Regions from separate parts of the Homo sapiens genome. Here region 1 is linked to region 2. The links come from fine-mapping of genetic effects on gene expression. A gene starts in region 2. The other region holds a variant in brackets. All regions are shown on one strand. Distances are from middle to middle.

The links.
Region 1: its variant is fine-mapped to the expression of STRN in regulatory T cells (Bossini-Castillo 2019, PIP 0.95).

The regions. Positions count from the first base shown.
Region 1 is chr2:36,834,481-36,838,880 of GRCh38, forward strand. STRN (striatin) reads right to left here. Exons shown (of 18, transcript NM_003162.4): 18 at 3,218-4,400. Among named protein-coding and RNA genes, the nearest start is that of STRN, 130 kb to the right of the region's middle. The variant TAC/T (reference allele first, on the strand shown) is at 2,483.
Region 2 is chr2:36,964,502-36,968,901 of GRCh38, forward strand. STRN (striatin) reads right to left here and starts at 2,035. Exons shown (of 18, transcript NM_003162.4): 1 at 1,729-2,035. The coding sequence starts at 1,962. RefSeq lists a silencer at 1,716-2,525.

The DNA.
Region 1 (4,400 bases), 130 kb before region 2:
AGGTGCTGGAGGTGTCTCAGCCTAATGGCTCCCAATTAATTATTTTAACAGGGAAATTGCAAAATAGGAATGAAGGACTAAAGACAGTTGTGGCAGAGAGAATTTGTTGGCTGGAATTTGTTATTTCCTATAGAGGCAGAAAAGTGAGATACTTTTTCTCAACATCCCTTAAACGTAGAGGAGGCCAACATTCTGGCCAATGAGATATGTGGGAAGTCTGTTGGAGGGCCTCTGGGAAGATTTCCTTTGCTGTCTGTATACAGTCAGCTTGGGCTTCCATAACAAAATATGATAGACTGGGTGACTTAAATAAACAAATTTTATTTTTCAGTCTGAAGGCTAGAAGTCCAAGATCAAGATGCCACCATGGTTGAGTTCTGGTGAGGCTCTCTTTATGGCTTACAGATAGCTCCCTTCTTGCTGTGTCCTCATCTGGCAAGGGGAGGCCAGGGGAGGGGAGGGGAGGGGAGGCAGTTCTACATGACACAAAATGCATGAGAGGTAGTTCTACATGACAAAGAATTGTCCCACTTAAAATGCCAAAATGCTTAAGAAACACTGATGTGACTGGTTCTCTATCAAAATAATGACAGACTATCTGGAAATATGCGAGGAAAATACTAACATTATTGATATAAGACCCTGAAATGGAAATTTAAGTAGTCTAAAAGTATAGAAATTAAATTGTAACGGCAAAACCAAAGACGCAGACAAAGAATGGGGAAAGGGAAAGTAACAGCATCTTTAAGCATCACTTATTTTGGAGAGGCACAGGAAGTGAATGTATTCTAAAAATCACATTTTTTTGTTTCAGGTTGGTAGGGGGTTAGTGAAGATTAGAGTGATTCTGTTTTTTCATAGAGTAGCAGGAAGATATCTGATTATGAATGAAGATAATTTTGAAAGAGAAACGCACAGTAGAAATCCCACATTAACATGAGAAAGACAGGAAGTGAATAATGACTTCATCAATCCAGCAAAAACGAAAAGAAACAATGAAGTAAAATAATGAACATAATAAAACAAAACCAGTGAACACCCAATATATCCACTGAAAGAAACTACCAGCCAGTTTCTTTCCTGGAAGACCTAGAAATAGGCAGCTTACAGGAAACACACTTAAAATGAAGGAATAAAGAAAAGTTGAAAGTAGAGACCCTTAAATAAAACAGTAAGACTAATCTATGAATATGCATGCTAAAGCTCCAAATAAAAGACTAGCAACTGAAACAAGGACTTATATGAAAACAACAACATATATGACCAAATAGGGTTTATTTCAAGGAGGCAAGCATGTTTTAATGTCAACTTCATACACACAATTGGTTAGTCAACAGCTTAAAGAAGAGTAACTCATGATCACATCAAAAGATGCTAAGAAGGCATTTGATGAAATTCAGCAGCCATTCTTTAAACCTGGAAAAACAGGAAAGAACCTATTTAAATAAAATAGAGATTATTTACCAAATAACAAGTAAAATACTCTAAATAACTAAATACCAAAACCATTTCCACTAAAGTTAATAATAGACAGGGAGGCCTACTTTTACCATTATAACTCAACACCACATTGGAGTTTCTAGACAACAAAAATTTCAAAAAAAGAATCAGTCAAACATTGAAAAAGACAAGATCAAATTATTTTTGTGAATGTCCCAATTGTATTTCTAAACATCTCGAGACTCTAGTGAAAACCTGCTATAATTCATGAGATTTAGTAAGCATTTACAATGTTTGTTGTATATAAGCATACAAAAACAGATTTTCTCTGTGTATTTTAAAATGTATTTTCTTAAATTTTTTTTTTTTTTTTTAAGAGATGGGGTTTTGCTATTTTGCCCAGGCTGGTCTGGAACTCCTGGGCTCAAGCAATCCTCCTACCTCAGCCTCCCAATGTGCTGGGATTACAGGCATGAGCCATGCACCTGGCTCCTCTCTTTATTTGTAATAAGCTCTTATAAATGAAAATGGTCACAATAGTGACCAAAATAAGAACATATTAAAAATTTTTTAAAGGCAAAGAACTTAAACTCTCAAATCTTACTAAAGATATAAATAAGATCCAAACAGAAAATGATATGTTGTTCTCAGATGGGAAGACAGTATTGTGGGTCAAACTTCCCCAAATTAATATGTAAATTTAATGTAATTTTAACTCCTAATTGGATTAAATTATTACAAACTTCAAATGCTGAGGATAGCCAACAAAGGCAGTAAAAAGAACAGTGGGCAGGGGCTTGGGAAGCGGAAAAGCTCTCCTGACCATATTATAAGGCCACCAATAACTGAATCCATATGATATTGTCATATGAAAGGAGAATTGTAAGTGAAACAGCATGGCATATTGAGAAATAAACCTCATTAAATATATAAATTTAATATATGACAATGCTGGTGTTTCAATTCATTGGGAAAAGGTTGTTTAATAGAGTGCTACACTGGCAACCCACTTGGAAGAAATTTAGTTGGACTGTTTGCATTC[TAC/T]ACACACACACACACACACACACACACACACACACACACACACAAATGGAGTAAAGACATAAATGTAGAAAACCAAAACCAAAAAACAAAAAATGTAGAAGCCATTCTAGCGGCCTATACATGCCACCCAGGAATGGAAACCTTCTTAATCAATAAAGAATACTTCCAAAAGCTTATAGTCACAAATGCCTATATTTTATATATAAGTATACTTGAAGATCTACTAATAAAAAGTTTTTCGGGTTTGTTTTTTTTGGGACATGATCTCACTGTCGCCCAGGCTGGAGTGCAGTGGAGCGATCTGGACTCCACCTGCTGGGCTCAAGCCATTCTCCTACCTCAGCCTCCAGGGTAACTGTTGTGCCACCATGCTCAGCTAGTATTTTAAAAATTGTATGTAGAAACGAGGTCTCACTATGTTGCCCATGCCAGTCTCAAACTCCTGGGCTCAAGCGATACTCCTGCCTCAGCCTTCCAACGTGCTGAAATTACAGGCGTGAGCCACCCTGCCAAGCCCTAATATAAAGTTTTAAATGAGAAAAGGTATTATAAACATGGTCAACAAAAATAATATAGTTTTGGAGAAAAACACTGGCAAATAGTAAGAAAAAGGGTTTACATGTAGTATAAAAAGAGCACCTGCAAATTTTAAAAAACACAGTGGAACATGGGCAAAACTTTAATAAAATAACAAAATAAACATTTTAAAATGCAAATATGCAATTCACTCAAGTGAAATTCAAAAGGCAAAGTTTTATTTGGAAAAAGTACTTTTGAATGTGGTCAACAGACAACTTACAAGAGTTGGAAAAAAATGTTTGCATCCAAGATAAGAAAATCTGAACATATATTGTACAACATACAAAATGCTTTCACAAACTAGTTAACTAAAAAGACAAACGGTACAAACATATGGACCAAAAATAAGAAAAATTTAAAAATGTATATAAAAGTATAACTACGAATATTTGTGGTAGGCAGAATTCTAAGATGGCCCCCATGAACTCTGCCCCTCATGTTACTTCCATGGTTGATGTTACATTGCAGGGCAGAGGGACTTGGCAGATGTAATTAAAGCTACTAATCAGTTGACCTTAACAATCTGGGTGTGCTTAAACTAGTCACAAGAGCCCTTTAAAAGCAGTTTTCTCTGGCTGGTAGAAGTAGAGTCAAAGTATAAAAATAATTTGATGCACCCTGGCAAGCTTTGAAGGTGGAAGGGACCACGTGCAAGGACCACGGAGCAACCTCTAAAGGATCAGATTTGACAGTCAGCTAGGAGACAGGGACCTCCATCCTCTGACTTTAATGAGGCTGGAAGCGAATTCCTCCTCAGAGCTTTAGTTGAGTACCCACCCTGGAAGACACTTTCATTTCAGCCTTGTTGGGCCTTGAACAGACAGCCCAGTTGAGTTTCCCTGGAGTTCTAACCTACAGAACTTTGAATAGATAATTCAGTTCTGAGTGCAATCCAGATGACCAAAACATTTGAAAAGATGTCTACATTTATAGTAGTCAGGAAAATGGAAATTAAAATAACACTGAAAAATCACTACATCCACCAGGATTTTTTTCTTTTTTCTACGTATTTTTTAATGTTACAATAGTTATTGCCATGAGTATTAAGGGAAAAGTGTTTTTATACATTTACTGATGGAAATAAAAACTGTTCCGGCCACTTTGGGAAACAATCTGTCAATATTTATTTAAAAATTTAAATATACATACTCCTCAATGCAGCAATCCTACTCCAGGGAATCTATTCCGCAGACGTAAAACCATCATGGTGACAAACATATACACAGGAATGTTTATTGTAATAATAAAAAGGAAATAAGAGCTATGATAGACTTAGAGAAATTCTCATCCTACATTGTTAAATGAGAAATGTGAGATGCAGAGAACGTACATGATCC
Region 2 (4,400 bases):
AAGGTCAAAGAAGACTTGCAAATATCAGATAGACTAGATCGACTAAATACTACAGCAATATAACAATAGGAATGAAAAAGTTGCCAAATAATATAAACATGTAACTACAGACTTACAAGGAAATCATAGAAACTACTGGTCACTCCCTAACTTCATTCAGCTGCTCATTTGTCATCTCTCAGAGGCCTACCCTGACTACCCCATCTAAAATAGCTGCCCCTATCACACGCTATTCCTGAACTCTGACTTATTTCTTCCTCACAGCAGTTGCCACTATAAGCCATTATATTCTATAGGCGCATTTGCTGGACTGTTTGCCTCTCCACTAAAACATAAACTCCATGAGGGCAGAAGCTTGGTCGGTTTTCTTTCAACACAGGGCCTAGACACACAGCTGGCACTCAATACACAGGTGCTGAATAAAATACATGATAAAACTGAAACCCAGAGAGGTTAAAGGATTTCCTCAAGGTCACAGAGCTAGCAACAAACACAGCCCTTACTATAACCTTGTCTACTACAGCCTTGTGTGTTCGCTCTTTCCACAGCCACTTCCACTACACCAGAGCCTGTTCCAGCACATGATTCTATTTAACAGATTTCTCCTCTTCTTTTTTTTCTTAAGCGCCAAATACATGTTACCAAAAAAAGTGACACACTGGGTAGCATTTTAAACTCAAGTGTTTTGCCAACTAAAACTATACTCAAATTTCATAAGTATACAGGCTTAGCCCGTAAAACAGAAAGGCACAACTATTCATAGTTCTTTAAGTTCCTTTTGAAATTGGTGTGTATGCCCTGGAAGTTTTAAGAACAACCACTGAAAACCTATTCACCAATTCTGAATGGCTTGTAAAGTATCAGCCTCACTTTCATTCTTTTCAGAGCCCACAGTTATCTCCTCCCTGGATATACTTTATCTTGCAGATTATGCAAGGCAATGTAACTAACTTCAAAGTCCCTTTAGTTCCTTTTAAAGCACAAGAAAATCTCCCAAAACACTGAACATAAAATTAACCCTTGGGAAGTTTCAGATTCTGAGAACAGGAACCACCTCTTAACCATTCTCTCTGACTGCGATCATCTAGGTCCTTCATTCAAAATGCATTAATTGGAAATACCTAAAAGAAACGTGGGAGGGGGCCGGGGGGTCGGAAGAAAGTGGAGAACAGACATTTACATATATAAAAAAAGGGATCTGATATATGAATAACACTTTTGCCCAACGTCAACTTCTCGCCTCGACTCAAGGCCTGACACAACTTCTGTTGTCTTCTTGATCACCTTCCTTGAAGAGAGGGGCCAAAGCCGGCACGTTCTGCGGAGACTGTCTCTAGACCTAGGAAGGGGCACACCAGGGCAGCGGACGATTTGCTCCGCGTCTCTCAAAACTACTGCCAGCCCAATTAGTAAACCGAGAGGGCAGCCCTGAGATGCAGGATGGCCAGAGAGTTGAAATGAGTCTGGGAGTTAAGAGTGGGATGGGGCGGACGAACAGGCGTGGGGAGGGTAAACAACGCACCAGGAGCGGGAGTGAGAACAGGGTCGAGGTGGGGTCAGCGAAAGGCAAAAGGCGAAGAGAAGAAGGGGACGGGGCTCCGGGTGGGATGGGCGGCAGCAAAGGGGGAGGGGACGCGAGAAGGCTGGGGGAGGGGGAGAAGGGTCCGGGGCGGGGCGGAAGGGAGCAAAGAGGCGGGATGAAGACGGCCAGGCCGGGAGGGTCTTTACCTGCAGCTCCGCCCGCTCCACCTCCCACTGGGCTCTCTCCACCTCGAAGCGGGCCCACTCGTGCTGCAGGAAGTGCAGGATCCCCGGGAGACTGTACTGGGCTCGGGCCGCCCCCGCCGCAGCCGCCCCGTCGCCGGCCGCGGCAGCCTCCGCCAGAGGCCCGAGCCCCTTGGCACCGCCGGCGCCCGGGTGGTTGTTGCTGAAGAAGACGCCGGGACCCGCCTGCTCGTCCATGGCGGCCGCAGATACCCGGGGAGCTGCCCCGGCGCCCAGCAGCGGAGGCAACAGCGGCGGCAAGCAGCGCCTCCTCCTCCCTCCGCCGCTCCCGCCCACACCCCAGTCAGCAGGGAGCAGCCTCCTGGGCGCGGGGGCCGGCCGAGCCCGTGACGGGCCGGGAAATGGGTCAACTGCGGCGCGCTGGCGGCCCGGGGCTTGCCGGGAAATGTAGTCGCGGGGCGGGGCGCGGGCTAGCGCGGCCCGGGCGGCCTGTAGGGCTGTGCCTCAGCTTGGGCGTGGCCTCGGGCCCGCCCCGCCCCGGCTCGCCGCGTAGGGGGCCGGCTGGGCGGGGAGAGCGGGTTTCCTCTGGGGCCGGCTGGGCGCGGGCGGGCGGGTCTCCAGTCTTCCTCGCACGCGGAAGTTCGCGGGCGGCGCACCCTGTTGCATTCAAAAACACACACACACACACACACACACACACACGGAAGTTGTCACGCCAAGATACCTGCCCGAGCTGCACATCTTTTAAGGCTTCCTGGCCGTTCTGTGAAGGAACAGGCTCAAAGCGAGCTACCCGGTGCGGCCGCGGGACCGGGGTTCTCCCGCCAGCTGCCCTGCGTGCTCTCGCTTCGGCTTCGTGTTCGGAGTTTCTCTCACCCTAGACGCTCCTCCATTCTGCCAATCTGCGGGTCGCTGTCGCTCTTGCCTTTCTCTTTTGACTCGAGGGGCTCAAACCTGTTACCTGACCAGTTTTCATTTCTAAGGAACGCCGATCACCTTTCTAAGACAACGCCGCAGCTTTCTGCTGCTGCTTCCAAATTGTGGTTTGTTGACAGCCCATCTGAAAAACTGCTCCGTTGAAGTTTCTTTCCCTTTGCAGTCCTCCTGCAGTAAATCCTGTAAAAGTTTTAGCATCCAATAATAGATGTTCTGTTATTTCGGTCTCATTTTTCCTATCTTATTCCCGCTGATTTTTACTCTACTTAATTGAACAAATATTTTGATTATCGGTTTTCTCTTGCGCTGGGAATATTAAGATAAATGACATCGTTTCTGTCATCAAAGATTGGCGTATAATCAAATATCACAAAGGCTTAATTTAAAAGCTACACCACCTTGAAAAAGCAAGTTCCCTTTCTGCTCCCTAGCGCGGTCTTAGATATCCTGGCCCCTCTCCGTTTTCACTTGTCCTGTTCCCAGTTTCTTTCACGATTCACCTGCCAACTGGCAACAGCATCCGCCTACCAAAGGTACACCAAAGTCCTTTCAAGTTACTCTCTGTAAATATTTGCCTTCTCCGAAGTCTGACAATATGTCACTATAAATTCACACTACAACAGTGGCAAAAAGGAAGGCCCCTGAAAACAATTTAACAAATGCAAATGAAATTAAGCACTTATTTTGTCACCCTAACAAGTTATCTGAAATTCTTACGTTTTGTAGGACGTACTTGTGGGTTATCAGACTTGATGGCCATGAAAAAATGTAAAGATCTAGGCTGCTGAGTGACATGTCAGGGAAAGACATCCTGTCCCTGTCCTCTCTCCCCTCCCCCCCTTTCCCATGGCTACTTGCAGAAAGGACAGGAAACACATTGTGTCTGCTCTGGTTGCAAATAAAGATGGAGAACTCTCTTCTCTCGCTTAATTAATGTTTCTGCTTTATGAATTCATTCTTTATTATCATCAAAGATTGATCCAGGCCTGGCCAAATTCCCTGTGCCATAACTTATTTTGGCTGTCAGTGTCCTTTGAGATACAGCCCAGTCTTCTCATTTACAGCTCAAGGAACTAAATTCCAAAAAAATTGAGACTTGTCAACAATGAGGCCTTGAGTGAGACGACATATCCGACAATTCCTTTAAGTCAATTCATAGCAGACACAAAATGTAATTAAATGTATAGATAATCTGGACTACCACACATATACAAAAACTATTTTAATTCGTAGTTCAACTTTATTACTCACAATACTTTTTTTGCTTTACGAGGACTCATTTACATTTTGGCCAGGCGCCATGGCTCACGCCTGTAATCCCAGCACTTTGGGAGGCCGAGGCGGGTAGATCACTGGAGCCTGGGAGTTGTGGGCAGGAGGCAGGAGAATAGGGTCTGGAGGCAGGGAACGTAAAGTAGATTCAGGCTGACTACCTAGAACTGAATCAAATGGAAATACTTCAGCTATAACAGGAAATGTCCTCTCCACTTACATAGGGCGCACACCAACTAAATGACGTTGTAACTTTACTTCATCCTCTTCATTTACATAGGGCGCACACCAAGTAACCAGTGGAAACCTCTAGAGGGTATTCAAACCCCAGAAAATTCTGTAACGGGACTCTTGATCCCCTATGCTCGGGCCTGCCCCTGCACTGTGGAGCCTACTTTCATTTTCAACAAATCTCTGTTTTTGTTGCTTCATTCTTTCCTTGCTTTGTGCGCTTTCCCCAATTCTTT